2 separate regions of the Homo sapiens genome follow, and region 2 is linked to region 1. The links come from fine-mapping of genetic effects on gene expression. A gene starts in region 1. The other region holds a variant in brackets. All regions are shown on one strand. Distances are from middle to middle. Region 1 holds the start of TARS1 (threonyl-tRNA synthetase 1). Region 2 overlaps ADAMTS12 (ADAM metallopeptidase with thrombospondin type 1 motif 12).

What was found.
Region 2: its variant is fine-mapped to the expression of TARS1 in whole blood (INTERVAL, PIP 0.96).

The regions. Positions count from the first base shown.
Region 1 is chr5:33,435,898-33,444,243 of GRCh38, forward strand. It overlaps TARS1 (threonyl-tRNA synthetase 1), which reads left to right and starts at 5,068. Exons shown (of 19, transcript NM_152295.5): 1 at 5,068-5,246. The coding sequence starts at 5,190. TARS1-DT (TARS1 divergent transcript) reads right to left here and starts at 4,737. Exons shown (of 3, transcript XR_001742630.2): 1 at 4,308-4,737. RefSeq lists a silencer at 80-129 and enhancers at 4,414-5,001, 4,656-4,965, 5,066-5,255, 5,516-5,575, 5,590-6,176.
Region 2 is chr5:33,706,089-33,714,434 of GRCh38, forward strand. The region is part of intron 3 of ADAMTS12 (ADAM metallopeptidase with thrombospondin type 1 motif 12); the gene reads right to left. Among named protein-coding and RNA genes, the nearest start is that of ADAMTS12, 180 kb to the right of the region's middle. The variant T/G (reference allele first, on the strand shown) is at 5,203.

The sequences.
Region 1 (8,346 bases):
TGGGCATAAATTATAACACTGGGAGTAAATCAGAAGTTTTTTTTTGTTGGCAAATACACAAAAGTTGTATAACAGTGTTTTGTGCTTTAGGTCTGAGATGTGTTGGACGCTCCCGTGATCTTTGCTTAGCTCTAAACACATAGTGAAAGAACACCTTCCTAACACCAGAGGGCACTGTGCCACAGGGATACCTCTGCGAGGTTCCCACACTAGCAACTCATTACATTCTTCCCCTATGTTCCTGCACCACAGTCAACCTGTTAGAAATGCCTTCTGCACCTGTTGTTTCCTGACTTTTTAATGATCACCATTCTAACTGGTGTCAGATGGTATCTCATTGTGGTTTCGATTTGCATTTCTCTGATGGCAAGTGATGATGAGCATTTTTTCATGTGTCTGTTGGCTGCAAAAATGTCTTCTTTTAAGAAGTGTCTGTTCATATCCTTCGCCCATTTGTTGATGGGGTTGTTTTCTTCTTGTAAATTTGTTTGAGTTCTTTGTAGATTCTGGATATTAGCCCTTTGCCAGATGAGTAGATTGCAAAAATTTTCTCCCATTCTGTAGGTTGCCTGTTCACTCTGATGGTAGTTTCTTTTGCTGTGCAGAAGCTCTTTAGTTTAATGAGATCCCATTTGTCAATTTTGGCTTTTGTTGCCATTGCTTTTGGTGTTTTTAGACATGAAGTCCTTGCCCATGCCTATGTCCTAAATGGTATTGCCTAGGTTTTCTTCTAGGGTTTTTATGGTTTTAGGTCTAATATTTAAGTCTTTAATCCATCTTGAATTAATTGTTGTATAAGGTGTAAGGAAGGGATCCAGTTTCAGCTTTCTACATATGGCTAGCCAGTTTTCCCAGCACCATTTGTTAAATAGGAAATCCTTTCCCCATTTCTTGTTTTTGTCAGGTTTGTCAAAGATCAGGTGCTGGAGAGGACGTGGAGAAACAGGAACACTTTTATACTGCTGGTGGGACTGTAAACTAGTTCAACCATTGTGGAAGACAGTGTGGCGATTCCTCAGGGATCTAGAACTAGAAATACCATTTGACCCAGCCATCCCATTACTGGGTATATACTCAAAGGATTATAAATCATGCTGCTATAAAGACACATGCACACGTATGTTTATTGCAGCACTATTCACAATAGCAAAGACTTGGAACCAACCCAAATGTCCAACAATGATAGACTGGATTAAGAAAATATGGCACATATACACCATGGAATACTATGCAGCCATAAAAAATGATGAGTTCATGTCCTTTGTAGGGACATGGATGAAGCTGGAAACCATCATTCTCAGCAAACTATCATAAGGACAAAAAACCAAACACCGCATGTCCTCACTCATAGGTGGGAATTGAACAATGGGAACACCTGGACACTGGAAGGGGAACATCACACACCGGGGCCTGTTGTGGGGTTGGGGGACGGGGGAGGGATAGCATTAGGAGATATAACTAATGTAAATGACGAGTTAATGGGTGCAGCACACCAACATGGCACATGTATACATATGTAACAAACCTGCACGTTGTGCACATGTACCCTAGAACTTAAAGTATAATAAAAATATATTTAAAAAAAGAAACGCCTTCTGCTTTTTCTTTTTGCCATACTTAAATGAGGACTGTTTTTAAAGTTGAAAGAGAACAAAGAGTTAAGAGAAGCTGCTAGAAACAATGTTATATAGCAGTTAAATATAATTGTTAGCCTATCATTTTCTGCATCCAGCAAATTCAGGAATCTTGATCTCTCTGGTTTTCATTATACTTAGTTAAAATTAAGATACAATTCAGGCAAATGTGTCTAATGAGCATAATTAAATTGTTTTACATTAAAAGGTAAGATTAGATCCTATTGATTCTCATTCTAATTTAAATGTGGGGAGTTAGTTTGGTCTATTTAAGCCTATTAAAATTGTACATAACTCCTGGAATATCAAGCACTACTAATAATCTACTCTCATCATAAACTTTCTTCTAGATCTAGTTAGTAAAGGGGTTTTGACTTCTTTTATAATACAAATAAAGAGGTAATTTTCCAAACCTTGCTTGAAAAATTAAGCAAGTTTTGTCTCAACACTCAACATTTATTGAACATCTGCTGTGCGATAGGTTTACATCTTCCAGATGCTGGCAAAAATACACAAAGTGTGCTTTCGTGAAGTTTTCAATCAAGGAGATAAAATATATTTTAAAAAAACTATAAACTTGCAAGGTAGGAGAAGAGCTTAAGCTCAGGAGTTTGAGACAAGTCTGGGTAACATAGTGAGACCTCATGTCTACTAAAAATTAAAAAATATATATATTAGCCGAGCGTGGTGGTGTGCACCTGTAGTCCCAGCTGTTCAGGAGACTGTGGCGAGGGGATCAATTGAGCCTGGGAGATCAAGGCTGCAGTGAGCTGTGATCACACCACTGCACTCCAGCCTGGGCAACAGAGCAAGACTCTGTCTCAAAAATAAATAAATGGATAGATAGATAGAATAAAAAATAAGAAAAAATTAACTGGGTGTGGTGGTGTGTGCCTGCAGTCCTACCTACTTGGGAAGCTGAGGCAGAAGGACTGCTTGAGTACAGCAGTTTGAGTCTGTAGTGAGCTATGATTGTGCCACTGCACTCCAGCCTGGGTAATGGAGCAAGACCTCATCTCAAAGAAAAAAGAAAAGAAAAGGACTATTATTAAAATCAAGGTGTCAGCTAAAGAGCAGTTATATATATATACACACACACACACACACACACACATATGTATATGTGTATACATATATATGTAATCTGCAAATTAGGTAGCTAATATTGCATAACTCTGTTCTCCTAGCACCTTTTCAAGTTACCCTTAGCCTTTGTCAGGACCTCGCTAGACTAGATTCTTTACCTAGAAGGATAGCCCAAACCTTCCTTCCTTCCTTGTCTTTGTTGGGTTCCCAGAGTTTTCCAACAGCGAAACATTAGACAAGGAAGTACTAAAAAAGGTCTCAGTGAATCTCCTGGGTTCTTGACAAAATTCTCCTTTATGTAGAAGAAACCCGCTTGTCCCCTTGTAATCAGGATCAATCACTCTGGACAGAAAAACAACCCCCAATTCTGCCTGTGAGTGTAGCAGTACGTGAAGCCCCACATAGGGTGTACTCTTAGGCCAACTGATCAGAACCATTACTGTGCATATATATATATATAATATATGTATATACATATACGTATGTGTATATGTGTGTGTGTGTGTATATATATATATATATACACATATATAGTAAACTTGCTTAGCTCTAAATACACACATAGTGAAAGAACAAGTTGAACCGGTAAGTTCTACCAAGAACCACATGAAACTACCAGCAGACACTATTGTAAGCGCCAAGGGGACCTTTCTCCTTGGCCCTCTGAGGTTTGGCTGAAAATCACTAACATGAGGAACATTAATAGAAAAAACATACAAATTTACTTAACGTGTATACACAGGAAGAATCACAGCGTGATTACCCACCCCTCAGAGGGCTTCAGAAGCTTGTGGATACAATCCCAGCGACACAGGTTATGATAGGGAGAAGAGGAATTCTGTTGAGGGATTACAAAGGAGAATGAATGTATCAGGAACACATTAATTTGTACAACATCTTGTGAAAGGGTCTGCTCAGGTGTGATTACTACATTCTTGGTCTTACAGGGAGGCAACAAAAACAATTATGTTCCTTGTGATGTGTCTAAACTTTATCCTTTGCTTTGGCAGAGATGGCGTGGGGATTTAGGGGAGTGGGACCTTGAGGCTTCTTCAGTTCAGATGTCAAAACGCCATTATTTGGGGGTATGTTTCTGCGCCTCCAACACTGTTTAACAGGGAGGCTTGTTTCATCCAGTAAGGGAGTCAAGAAATGGTTCCCCGAAGAAAACGATTCTTGAAATCTGACAATAAATGAGGTGTCAAACAGGCAAAAAGTGTGTCGGAATGAGCACGGATGAGGGTAGGGTGGAAAAATCTTGGTACTTAGTCTGTGGGAAGACCTGAGGAAAAAAAGCCACTACAGTTTATAGTTCAGTGTATGGTGGGCGAACGAGATGAAGCCGAAAACTTGGACAATCAGGGATTGTCCAAGAGCAAGGGAAAGCCACCAAAGATTTTTCAGCAGATTGCCGTGATCATATTTGTATTTGAAGACTACAACGATGCTGTATGAAAAATGGATGCACAAAGCCGAATTGGGAAGCTATTGTTCCTGGAAAGTATAACCCTGAAGGCGGAGAGTTGTAGAGAACAGAACTGATGTTTAAAAAGAAAAATCCACAAAACGTGGTGGTGGAGCACGTACCTGAAGTTATGCCTATTGCGCTTCTGATTTCAAATAAGTAATTGTTTTAAATTGCCTACTAACATAAAAAAGCCCAGTCGATTCCAAACACTGGCACCCAGGCGTGAGAATCCATGGTTATTTCCTTGGGTGAGCTTTATTGTATTTTTGCGGGCGCTATGGAAATGCTCCTCCAGGCAGTACAGATCAGCAGCGGCTCGTAGTGAAGAACGTTCAAGGAAGAGTTTGTCCCGGATCAACAGGACATGGGGCTTGGGAAGCCTGGACTGCCATGAGGAAGGTCGATTCACCACTACAGACAGGGAGCCTGAGGCCTGGGTGGTGCCGACAAGTCGGCAGTCACGCCAGGTCAGGAAGCGCCGAAGCCGCGGGAAACCCTGGACTCCATCCCGGGATTTGTCCCCGTGTCGAAGATGGTATCCAGGTCGCCGAAAACTTCCCGGAAGTTTAGACCAAGACCTACTTATTATCTACGGTGTCCGGGAAGGTCCATGATTGTTCCACATAAAGTCAGAAGGGAGGAAAGGCGCACGCGCATTGGGGACTTGACTCTGGAAAGCGTCCAGACCAAGGTCAGCGGAGAGTAGGCATGTAGCTTCTGCAGTTGCTCCTCCTCACCCTCCGCGACCTGATTTCCTAGAAGGGCTCTGTCACCCGAAAAGATTTTCCACTGGCTTAGAGGAGGGAGGGCCCGCCTTCCCCCGTTATCCATTGGCTGCTCGTTCCGCCGCAAGTTGGGGGCGGGGTTAGGGCGCCTTTCGATTGCATCAGCTGGTCCAGCCGAGGCCAAGTCCCGGGCGCTAGCCCACCTCCCACCCGCCTCTTGGCTCCTCTCCTCTAGGCCGTCGCTTTCGGGTTCTCTCATCGCTTCGTCGTTCGCCAATGTTTGAGGAGAAGGCCAGCAGTCCTTCAGGGAAGATGGGAGGCGAGGAGAAGCCGGTGAGCAAACTTGGTGGGACCCAGAGACCAGCCTGGGACTCTAGTGGGTGCAGACGCTACGCTCGCGGCGGGAGCGGGGGGCAGGAAGCAGGAAGCGGCCGGGACCGCGTGGGTCGGAGAAGTGGGGGATGGTGGGACTCCTGGAAAGTCGGAACCCCCTTTGGGAACCATCCATTCATAAATTAGGGTGGGGCCTTGCAGTTCATCTGTGGGTCCATTCTCTTTACAGATGAGGAAACAGACCTTGAGTGAGCGACTTGTTCAGAGCCTCACATCTACAGTAGTTAGACGCGGAGACAGAATCAGAATCTTAGGCTTGAGGCTTCCAAACTTGCGTTTATGGCTTACTGTAAGCGGGAAACACATTGCAGAGCCTTATTTAATCAATCTCCTAAGATCCTGCGGGGGTAAAGAGCTCCATTTTAAGGAAAGGAAAACCGAGTGCCCGAGATCTGACCCAGCTTGTCCAAGTTTGGGTGGTTAAGTATACATTTTGCCCGGCACTGATCTGGGCGGTGCATGTGGGAAGATGAATAGGGCCCAGTTCCCCGACTTTGAGGGCCTCACAGGCTGATGTGTAAGAGACAGGAAAACAGCCCTAGTGCTTTGTGATCAACCTTGTGGTATTACAGAAGAGGAAGTTTAGGAAGGCACTTTAGAATTTAGTTTGGAAGAATGATTTCACCAGGTAAACAGGCAGGACGGGGCTTCCCACGTAAAGGTAGGGAAGGCAGTGAAAAGGGGCACGCAGGTGAATTGTCTTTCGGGTTGTTTGCAAGAGATATGCCAGAAGGGTTAAAGGAACAGTAATCAGAAGGATCTTAGGCAACAAGGATGTTTGAAACTTGTATTCTATACATGAAGGATCTTAAGCAGGAAGATTGTATTTGTAAAAGTCACGCTGGCATTGGGATAGAAGGTTAGGCCACATGCAGAAGGCTGTTGTAATAGTCCAAGTGAGAAGTGGTGACGTCTTCAGCTAAGGGATCCTCTATCCCAAGTCTGTGACAGGACAGTTCACTTAAAAGCCAAATTTTTTTCTTGATTGTCCACTCGAGATTGAATGGAGAAACTGCATACGGGCACATTCTAACTATGTAAATTTAATTCTAGATGATAAATGGTGACTATACGTAGATTTTTTTCACATAAAATGATATTTTTACTGTTTTGTAACTTTTTTTTTTTTTTTTTTTTTTGCTTAATAGAATGTGGTCAACAACTTTCCATGTCCATAAATATTCTCCTGTGCTATTCTTAATTGGACGTGATATGTATGGTTAACACATATGTAATTTTTCCTTCCTGTAATAATTATACAATAGTTAATATTTATTTTGAGTACTAAATACGAGTTTGGCACTGTATTAATGCATTCCATGAATTAACTCATTCAGTCTTCTTTTTTTTGAGACGGAGTCTCGCTCTGTCACTCAGGCTGGAGTGCCGTGGTGCGATCTCGGCTCACTGCAAGCTCCACCTCCCGGGTTCATGCCATTCTCCTGCCTCAGCCACCAGGCCTGGCTAATTTTTTGTATTTTTAGTAGAGACGGGGTTTCACCGTGTTAGCCAGGATGGTCTCGATCTCCTGACCTCGTGATCCGCCCGTCTCGGCCTCCCAAAGTTCTTGGATTACAGGCGTGATCCACCGCGCCCGGCCTCATTCAGTCTTCTTAATAACGCTGTGAAGTGGGTTCTGTTATTATCTCCATTATACAGATGAGAAAGCAGGCGTAGGAACAGTAACTTGCTCAAACCCAGTATCCCCGTTTTTTTCCTTCCTCAAACCCAGTATCCTATAGCCAATACTAATAACCCCTGTGCTGTTCTGAGTGAGTCAGGGACAGATCATTCCTGAGAAAGGTAATTCTGTAGCTTCTCTTCACAATCCGGTTCTGTTTCCCAACTTTTGGGTTGAGATTTTAGATTACTTGTATGTAGATGTACATACCATATATACTCAGGGAAATAGAGAACAGTTGCCTACTCTCTTCCCAGTGTTGTAGAAAAGGGGTCATAGGCCTCAGGGTTCCAGAGAGACCTGTTGTAATTTCCCAGCTCTATTACTTAATGATACAAATGGGCAAGTTACTTCTTTGAGCCAGTGTTCTTGTTTGTAAAATGGAGCCGTATTTAGAACCAGAAAACCTTTGTGGTGATTCCCTCTCTCTCTCTCCCTCTCTCTCTCTCTCTCTCTCTCTCTCTCTCTCTCTCTCTCACTACCCCTGTTCATTTGGCAAATGGTCAAAACCAAAATAATCTTATCAGAAATATAAAACTTATTTTATCATCTTTCCATTTTAAACCTGCACAGACCTGCAATTTTTCTTTCTTTTTTTTTTTTTTTTTGTTGTCGTTGTTGTTGTTGAAATGGAGTCTTGCTCTGTCTCCCAGGCTGGAGTGCAGTGGCGCGATCTCTGCTCACTGCAAGCTCCGCCTCCCGGGTTCCAGCCATTCTCCTGCCTCAGCCTCCCGAGTAGCTGGGACTACAGGCACCCGCCACCACGCCCGGCTAATTTTTTTTGTATTTTTTAGTAGAGACGGGGTTTCACCGTGTTAGCCAGGATGGTCTCGATCTCCTGACCTCGTGATCTGCCCGCCTCGGCCTCCCAAAGTGCTGGGATTACAGGCATGAGCCACCGCGCCCAGCCGCAATTTTTCTTTTTACCCAGTATACTTGATCAGTTACATCACTTCTGCAGTATAACAAAGGCTCTATTGAATCTAAATGAACCTTTAAAGTTTATTAAATCCAGACTTCTGGAGTAGGGGGGATTTTAGCTCAGCATGAAATTAGGAGTCATATTTTAAAATTAGTTTTTTTTTTAATTATACAAGTAACGCATTTTATAGGATTTAAAAGACAATGGCCAAAATGTCCATCAACTGATAAATGGATAAGTAAGCAATGGAATATTATTTGATAATAAAAAGGTACAATGACAAGTATTGATGCATGTTACAACCTGATGATCTTGAAATTATTATGCTAACTAAAAGAAGCCTGTCACAAAAGACCACATAATGTGTGATTCTATTTATATGAAATTCCCAGAATAGGCAAATCTATAGAAACAGAAACTAGGTTAATGGTTGCCAG
Region 2 (8,346 bases), 270 kb after region 1:
GACTTTTTTTTAAAAAAATAGAAAAACAATCTTGAAAGTTTTATGGCAAAATAGAGTCTTTTTGCATGCTGTTTGTTTGGCTTGGAATACTGTTCCCTTCCCCCTTCATCTCATGAACTCTCATGAGATGCTTGGCCCAGAGCTGAGTTCAAGTCCTGAATATCCTTGTTAATTTTCTGTCTTGTTGATCTAATATTGACAGTGGGGTGTTAAAGTCCCCCACTATTATTGTGTGGGAGTCTAAGTCTCTTTGTTGGTCTCTAAGAACTTATTTTATGACTCTGAGTGTTCCTGTATAGGGTGCATATATATTTAGGATAGTTAGCTCTTCTTGTTGCATTGATCCCTTTACCATAACATAATGCCCTTCTTCGTCTTTTTTGATCTTTGTTGGTTTAAAGTCTGTATAATCAGAGACTAGGATTGCAACCCCTCTTTATTTTGGGCCTATGTGTGTCTTTGCACATGAGATGGGCCTCCTGAATACAGCACACCGATGGGTCTTGACTCTTTATCCAATTTGCCAGTCTTTCTCTTTTAATTGGGGCATTTAGCCCGTTTACATTTAAGGTTAATATTGTTATGTGTGAATTTGATCGTGTCATTATGATGCTAGCTGGTTTATCTCAACAGATACAGAAAAGGCCTTCGATAAAAGTCAACACACCTTCATGCTAAAAACTCTCAATAAACTAGGTATTGATGGAACATATCTCAAAATAATAAGAGCTACTTATGACAAACCCACAGCCAATATCATACTGAATGGGCAAAAGCTGCAAGCATTCCCTTTGAAAACTGGAACAAGACAAGTATGCCCTTTCTCACCACTCCTATTCAGCATAGTATTGGAAGTTCTGGCCAGGGCAATCAAGCAAGAAAAAGAAATAAGGCATATTCAAATAGGAAGACAGGAAGTCAAATTGTCTCTGTTTGTGGATGACATGATTGGATATTTAGAAAACCCCATCATCTCAGCCCAAAAACACCTTAAGCTGATAAGCAACTTCAGCAAAGTCTCAGGATACAAAATCAACGTGCAAAAATCAAGCATTCCTACACACCAATAATAGACAAATAGATAACCAAATCATGAGTGAACCCTCATTCGCAACTGCTACAAAGAAAATAAAATACCTAAGAATCCAACTTACAAGGGATGTGAAGTACCTCTTCAAGGAGAACTACAAACCACTGCTCAAGGAAACAAGAGAAGACACAAATAAATGAAAACACATTCCATGCTCATGGATAGGAAGAATCAGTATTGTAAAAATGGCCATACTGCCCAAAGTAATTTATAGATTTAATGTTATTGCCATCAAGCTACCACTGACTTTCTTCACAGAATTAGGAAAAACTACTTTAAATTTCATATGGAACCAAAAAAGAACCCATATAGCCAAGACAATCCTAAGCAAAAAGAACAAAGCTGGAGGCATCATGGTACCTGACTTCAAACTATATTACAAGGCTACAGTTACCAAAACAGCATGGCACTGGTACCAAAACAGATCTGTAGACCAATGGAACACAACAGAGGCCTCAGAAATAACACCACACATCTACAACCATCTGATCTTTGACAAATCTGAGAAAAACAAGCAATAGGGAAAGGATTCCCTATTTAATAAATGGTGTTGGGAAAACTGGCTAGCCATATGCAGAAAACTGAAACTGGACCCCTTCCTTACACTTTATACAAAAATTAACTCAAGATGGATGAAGGACTTAAACATAAGACCTAAAACCATAAAAACTCTAGAAGAAACCTAGGCAATACCATTCAGAACATAGGCATGGACAAAGTCTTCATGACTAAAACACCAAAAGCAATTGCAACAAAAGCCAAAATAGACAAATGGGATCTAATTAAGAGCTTCTGCACAGCAAAATAAACTATCATCAGAATGAGCAGGCAACCTACAGAATGGGAGAAAATTTTTGCAATCTATCCATCTGACAAAGGGCTAATATCCAGAATCTACAAGGAACTTAAACAAATTTACAAGAAAAAAACAAACAACCCCATCAAAAAGTGGGCAAAGGATATGAACAAACACTTCTCAAAGGAAGACATTTATGCAGTCAATAAACATATGATAAAAAGCTTATCATCACTGGTCTTTAGAGAAATGCAAATCAAAACCAAAATGAGATACCATCTCATGCCTGTTAGAATGGCCATCATTAAAAAGTCAGGAAACAACAGACACCGGAGAGAATGTGGAGAATAGGAATGTTTTTACACTGTTGGTGGGAGAGTAAATTAGTTCAACCATTGTGGAAGACAGTGTGGAGATTCCTCAAGGATCTAGAACCAGAAATACCATTCGACCCAGCAATCCCATTACTGGGTATATACCCAAAGGATTATAAATCATTCTACTATAAAGACACATGCACACATATATTTACTGCAGCACTATTCACAATAGCATAGACTTGGAACCAACCCAAGTGCCTATCAATGATAAACCGGATAAAGAAAATGTGGCACATATACACCATGGAATACTATGCAGCCATAAAAAAGGATGAGTTCATGTCCTTTGCAGGGACATGGATGAAGCTAGAAACCATCATTCTCAGCAAACTAACACAGGAACAGAAAATCAAACACCACATGTTCTCACTTATAAGTGGGAGTTGAATAATGAGAACATATAGGCACAGGGAGGAGAACATCACACACCAGGGCCTATCAGGGGGTAGGGGACAAGAAGAGGGATAGCATTAGGAGAAGTATCTAATGTAGATAACGGGTCGATGTGTGCAGCAAACCACCATGGCACATGTATACCTATATAACAAACCTGCACGTTCTGTACATGTATCCCAGAACTTAAAGTATACTAAAAAATAAAAAATAAAAAAACAAATAAAAAACAAAACAAAACAAAAACAAACAAAAAAAGAATACTATGCTTCACCATATTAAGAAGAAATTGGGCAAAGAACATGAAGACACTTCTCAAAAGAAGACATTTATGCAGCCAACAAACATGAAAAAAAGCTCAACATCACTGATCATTAGAGAAATGCAAATCGAAACCACAATGAGATACCATCTCAGGCCAGTCATAATGGTAATTATTACAAAATCAAGAAACAACAGATGCTGGTGAGGCTGTGGAGAAATAGGAACCCTTTTACACTGTTGGTAGGAATGTAACTTAGTTCAACCATTATGGAAGACAGTGTGGTGATTCCTCAAAGACCTAGAACCAGAAATACCATTTGACTGAGCAATCTCATTACTGGGTATACACCCAAAGGAATATAAATCATTCTATTATAAAGATACATGCACACATATGTTCACTGCAGCACTATATTCACAATAGCAAAGATATGAAATCAACCCAAATGCCCATCAATGATAGACTGGATAAAGAAAACGTGGTACATATACACCATGGAATACTATGCAGCCATAAAAAGGAATGAAATAATGTCCTTTGCAGGGACATGGATGGAACTGGAAGCCATTATCCTCAGCAAACTAAAGCAGGAACAGAAAACCAAACACTGCATGTTCTCACTTATAAGTGGGAGCTGAACACTTGGAACACATGGACCCAGGGAGGGGAACAACACACATGGGGGATTGTTGTGGGGGGATGTGGGGGTTGAGAAAACATCAAGATAAGTAGCTAATGCATGCTGCGCTTAATACCTAGGTGATGGGTTGAAAGCTGCAGCAAACCACCATGGCACACTTTTACCTATGTAATAAACCTGCACATGTATTCCAGAAATTAAAATAAAATAATAAAATAGAAAAAAACAAGTCAAAATCCAATCTACCATGAAAATAACATATAAAAATAAAATATTGTCTGAAAAAATGTAGTAGAGTAAGCAATCCACGCAAACCAAGTGTACGAGATTCTAATTCCAGCTATTTGTTAATGGTTACAATCACTTAAACTCTTCGAAGCCAATTCCTTATCTTCAAAATAGGTTTAAAATTGTGTGTCTTAGTCCCTTCCCAGGACTGTTACGGTGACCCAAAGATATGCTAGGTATGACCATTCCATAAAAAGTGTTGTGTTATATGGGAGGAATCAGTAACTTATATTATTTCAGAACTATTTTTAGAGTTTTAAATTTGGAAAATAAAAATTCCTGAAGGCTCCAGCAACGTGTTAGTGTTTTCCAAGGCACTAATCAGATAAAATTTCTGCTTCTTCACTCAGGTCTATCCTCCAACCATTGCCATATAAGACAGCCTAAGAATCTGCATGTAAAAATGATCCTGAATGCAGTTTCCACCACTGGAGCATGGTGTCAAGGAGGCCAAGGTTGTAGGCTGGAACTAATCGTAACACATTTTAGAGGTTCACCACGTCTCCATTTTCTGATCTCAAATTGTCAAGTCTTCTTGCCACTCTCTCCCTTTGAAACAAATATTTATTATGCATCTGCTATGACCTAGTCATTGTACTAGAAATGGAGAAGATATCAGTGAGCAATAATGACATGGCTCCTGGCCTCATGGAGCTTGGAATTTGATGGTGAAGACCTACGACAAACAAGTAAGACAATCACACTTCTCAAAAGTTAGAGGTTGTCCTATGCACTGTGGAAGACACGAACAGACTGCTTAAACAACAGTGTAGGGAAGAATGCATTTTAGATAGCATGATCTAGAAGCATCACTTTGAGGGTGTGCCATTTAAGTTGAGACCTCAGTGACGAAAAGCCTATGTGCAGACACACAGAAATAATATTTCAAACATAGAAAAGAGCAAGCATAGAACTTCTATAGCAGGAAAAATCTTAATGAGTACTAAAAATTTTCAGAAAGAGGATTGGTTGAGACATAGTGAATGTGGGGCAAGTGGTCTAAGAGACTCCCCTGCACAGATAGGCAGGGCCAAATGATATACCATCTTGAGGGATGGCAAAAATAAGAATGGAAATTATGTGGTCATTTCTTCTTCTTCTCTCTTGCAGTGAAGATTCCAATAACAACTTTCAGCACCACCATTTTCAAATACCATGTCCTACCCCTGGACCAGCTTTATCACCAGCTCGGGACCTCAACAATGCCTTTTACACAGAACTCACAACCCAGAGAGTGACTGACTAACCCCACTCAACTTACTCCCAGAACCCTGAATCTCCTCTCCTCTTCCAGCCACATCCCCACCTCCCCATCCAAATTAACATGGTGCTTTCCAAGGCTCTGTTACT[T/G]ATTTCTCTCAGGGGTGTCCACCCTCGGTGACCCAGCCCAGTTGCTAGATATCATACAATTTTTACAGCTGACTGGCTGTTTTTACTTCCTTTTCAATTATTATTTTGAAACACATAAGAAATATTTTGGAACCATAAGTGGCTCAGGAAATTCTAAATTAAAGGCCTTGTAGGGCTGCAGCTGGCCCTGTCAGGTCTCACACCCCAGGGGACACACAGCACAAACAGATTTTGGTGTCCTTCCAAACTCACTGCATGATGCTCCAGGCACCACTCCCTACTGTTACTCTCTTAAACGACAGAACTGTGTAAACAAACACACAAGCAACATCCTCCCAAAGAAGAAATATGTACAATCAATGTTAATAAATGAGTATGATCATTGCTTCCCTCATCGCTCTTCCAATATTCTCTCTGAAAATGTCTAGAGTTAGAATTGTCAAATTTATTGTCTTTCAAACTCAAAGATACAATTACTACTTAAACACAGGGAATATAATGGATCCTGGAGAGAAGGAGTGACCCTAAGGATATGTGCAGAAAGCAGATCACTGATCACTTAATATTAGTTGTACTTGGAATCTTCAAATATCTGCTCAGCCTCTTACACTTGAGCTTGTAATTTTAAGAATAGTATTTCCATATTTTCTGAGGATGCAGTAGGTTACCAGTGAAGGCAGGATAGAATGATGTTTGGGCACAGTTCCAAAGCCAAATTAGTACCATCTCTTAGTAACTCCTAAGTGACTTTGTATAACTTACTTGGCTTTGTTCTACCTCAGTTTACTCATCTGTAAAATGGAGACATATTGGAATGTAACGAAATTCTGATGAGGATTAAATGACTTGATGCATAAACCACATGTAACAGTAGCAGGCACACCGTAAATACTTACTAAATGTTAAATATTACTATTAATAATTGATCTAACAAATAAAAACTGGCTGGAAAACATAAAAAACCTCACTGTCAATTAACAGCCAAGGCAGCATCAGGACTTCGAATGATGGCAGAAGGTCTCAACATATCCCCCAAAAGCACATACCACCCTCAAGAAGTAAAATGCTTTCAATGCTCTTTCGAGGTGGGTTTCAAATATAGACAAGTAATGAAACTTGGGCAGGGAGAAGAACTGCATAGATAGGAAGAGCAGCAAGTTGTGAAAAGGAAGTTATAAAACCCTCATCTTTGCAGCAGATTTATCTCTTGCAGGGGTGGATACGTTGGCAACACTAAGCCACAGAGATTCAGTTGAAGGTACTGAGTGAAGTAGTTACTATAGGTTTTAGGAATGACAGAGGTGGAGAAAAGAGTTGGTGAGGTTTGACAAGGTAAAAGATAGAGACAAGGCTAAGTGCAAAATCACTGACATAGGTGAGAAGCTGTGATGATCTACATAACAAACTGGCAAAGATGAACTAGTTTGGCCTCTTCACCCAAACCTCACAACTCTTCAGCCTCTTGAGTACTTCTTGTACAAAGAGGTGAAGCTGGTTGAGATGGGTTAGTACAATGCTGTCCTCCTGAACACTGGGACTTTGGTTTCCTTGATTCAATATCTGGCTTTGGGGCTGCAAAGTTGCCTGTAAAAAAATCAATGGGGTCATGGCCTAGATCCAATAGCAATCATCTAGTGGCAGAATATGGGATTTGGCTAGACTCTGTATAGCTTGGCCACATTTTAAAATAAATTTAGGACTTGTTAGGGATTTGCATCTTGATTTTAAACACATACTGGACAAACTCCACACTGGAGCTGTAACTGTGGAAGGCCAGGAATCTGAGGCCTTAAGCCTCTGAATGGATGTTTCTGAAAAGAAGAAGACGTTTCCCAATCAGTTCTTAGAGTTTGGTTCATAATGTGAAATGCAACAAAGGGAACAATCAGTATTATTAAAAGGGCCAGTCAGGGAGCTATACTTACACTCCTCAGCACACATTGTTTTATCAAGATTTTTTGTATGTAGATATGCCCAGTCAGCAATAGCAGGAGTGCTGTTAGCTCACTGCTGTGGAAATCAAGTTCTAGGGAGCAAAAACAGAACCAAGTAAACAGAAACCACCAACATACAAAGTAACTTCCTCATTAGTTTTAACTTCCTCCTTCATTCTCAGAAGTTTTAACAAGAGCTTTTAAAAATACATATTTAAAAGCTAGAACAACCTTTTATTGCTGGTTTTAAAGCATTTTTAATCCTCAAAACCACAAGATATCACAAACAGAAATTTGGAAATGGACCCAGTATGGGCATTTGATTTATATATAGCCTGCTTTATTTCACAAAACAACTAATGTGGGTTCCAAATAAAGACAGGATGGCCAGATGACTTAAATCAGGAGATGACAAGAAAAAAAAATTGATGAGGAGAAGATAAAATAAACTGAAACTAATGAAACTAATGAGAAAAACGGGTCACCATATTCTGTCGATTCACTTGTTTGGTTAGTCCACAAAGTTGGCTCTAGTTCTTGCCACTACTGAGTAAAAGGCAAATGTGATTAATTTTCAAGTCAGACTGATTATATGACAAGAATCTACTGTCAATAGAAATAAATCTATTTGGGAGACATTAAAAAACCCAGTAAGAACTAGTTATTCTGGTCATTATCATTCAGAGTAAGAGTCTTAAAGATCTCGTTTCTGACACCAACCTTCTTTTACAGATAAGAGCATGGTAGTCTTGGTTGGACCCCTGTCCTCCAGGAAGAACCTGAAATCTTCATGTGGGCTTGTGATACCACTTGTATTTATTTGAAAGTCTGGACAATTCAACAATTAGAGTCTTTCAGGAGTTGGTGTTTCTTTTAGAGAGTTTTACAAATTGGGGAACCATAAATAGGAGATAAAGTAATAGCCTACAGCTGCCTATATGTTACAGCTGAAGAAGGGGGAAAGCCCCTTTAAACTAATTTAGGATGAGTCGATGGGATATCATCTCACCCCAGTTAGGAAGGCTATTGTCAAAAACACACACACACACAAAATGCTGGCAAGGATGCGGAAGAAAAGGAACTCTCAAACACTGTTGTTGGCAATGTAAATCAAAATGTAATGCAAATGCAATGTAAATGCAAAGCCACTATGGAAAACAGTATAAGCGTTTCTCAAAAAACTAAAAATAGAACTACCGTATGATCCAGC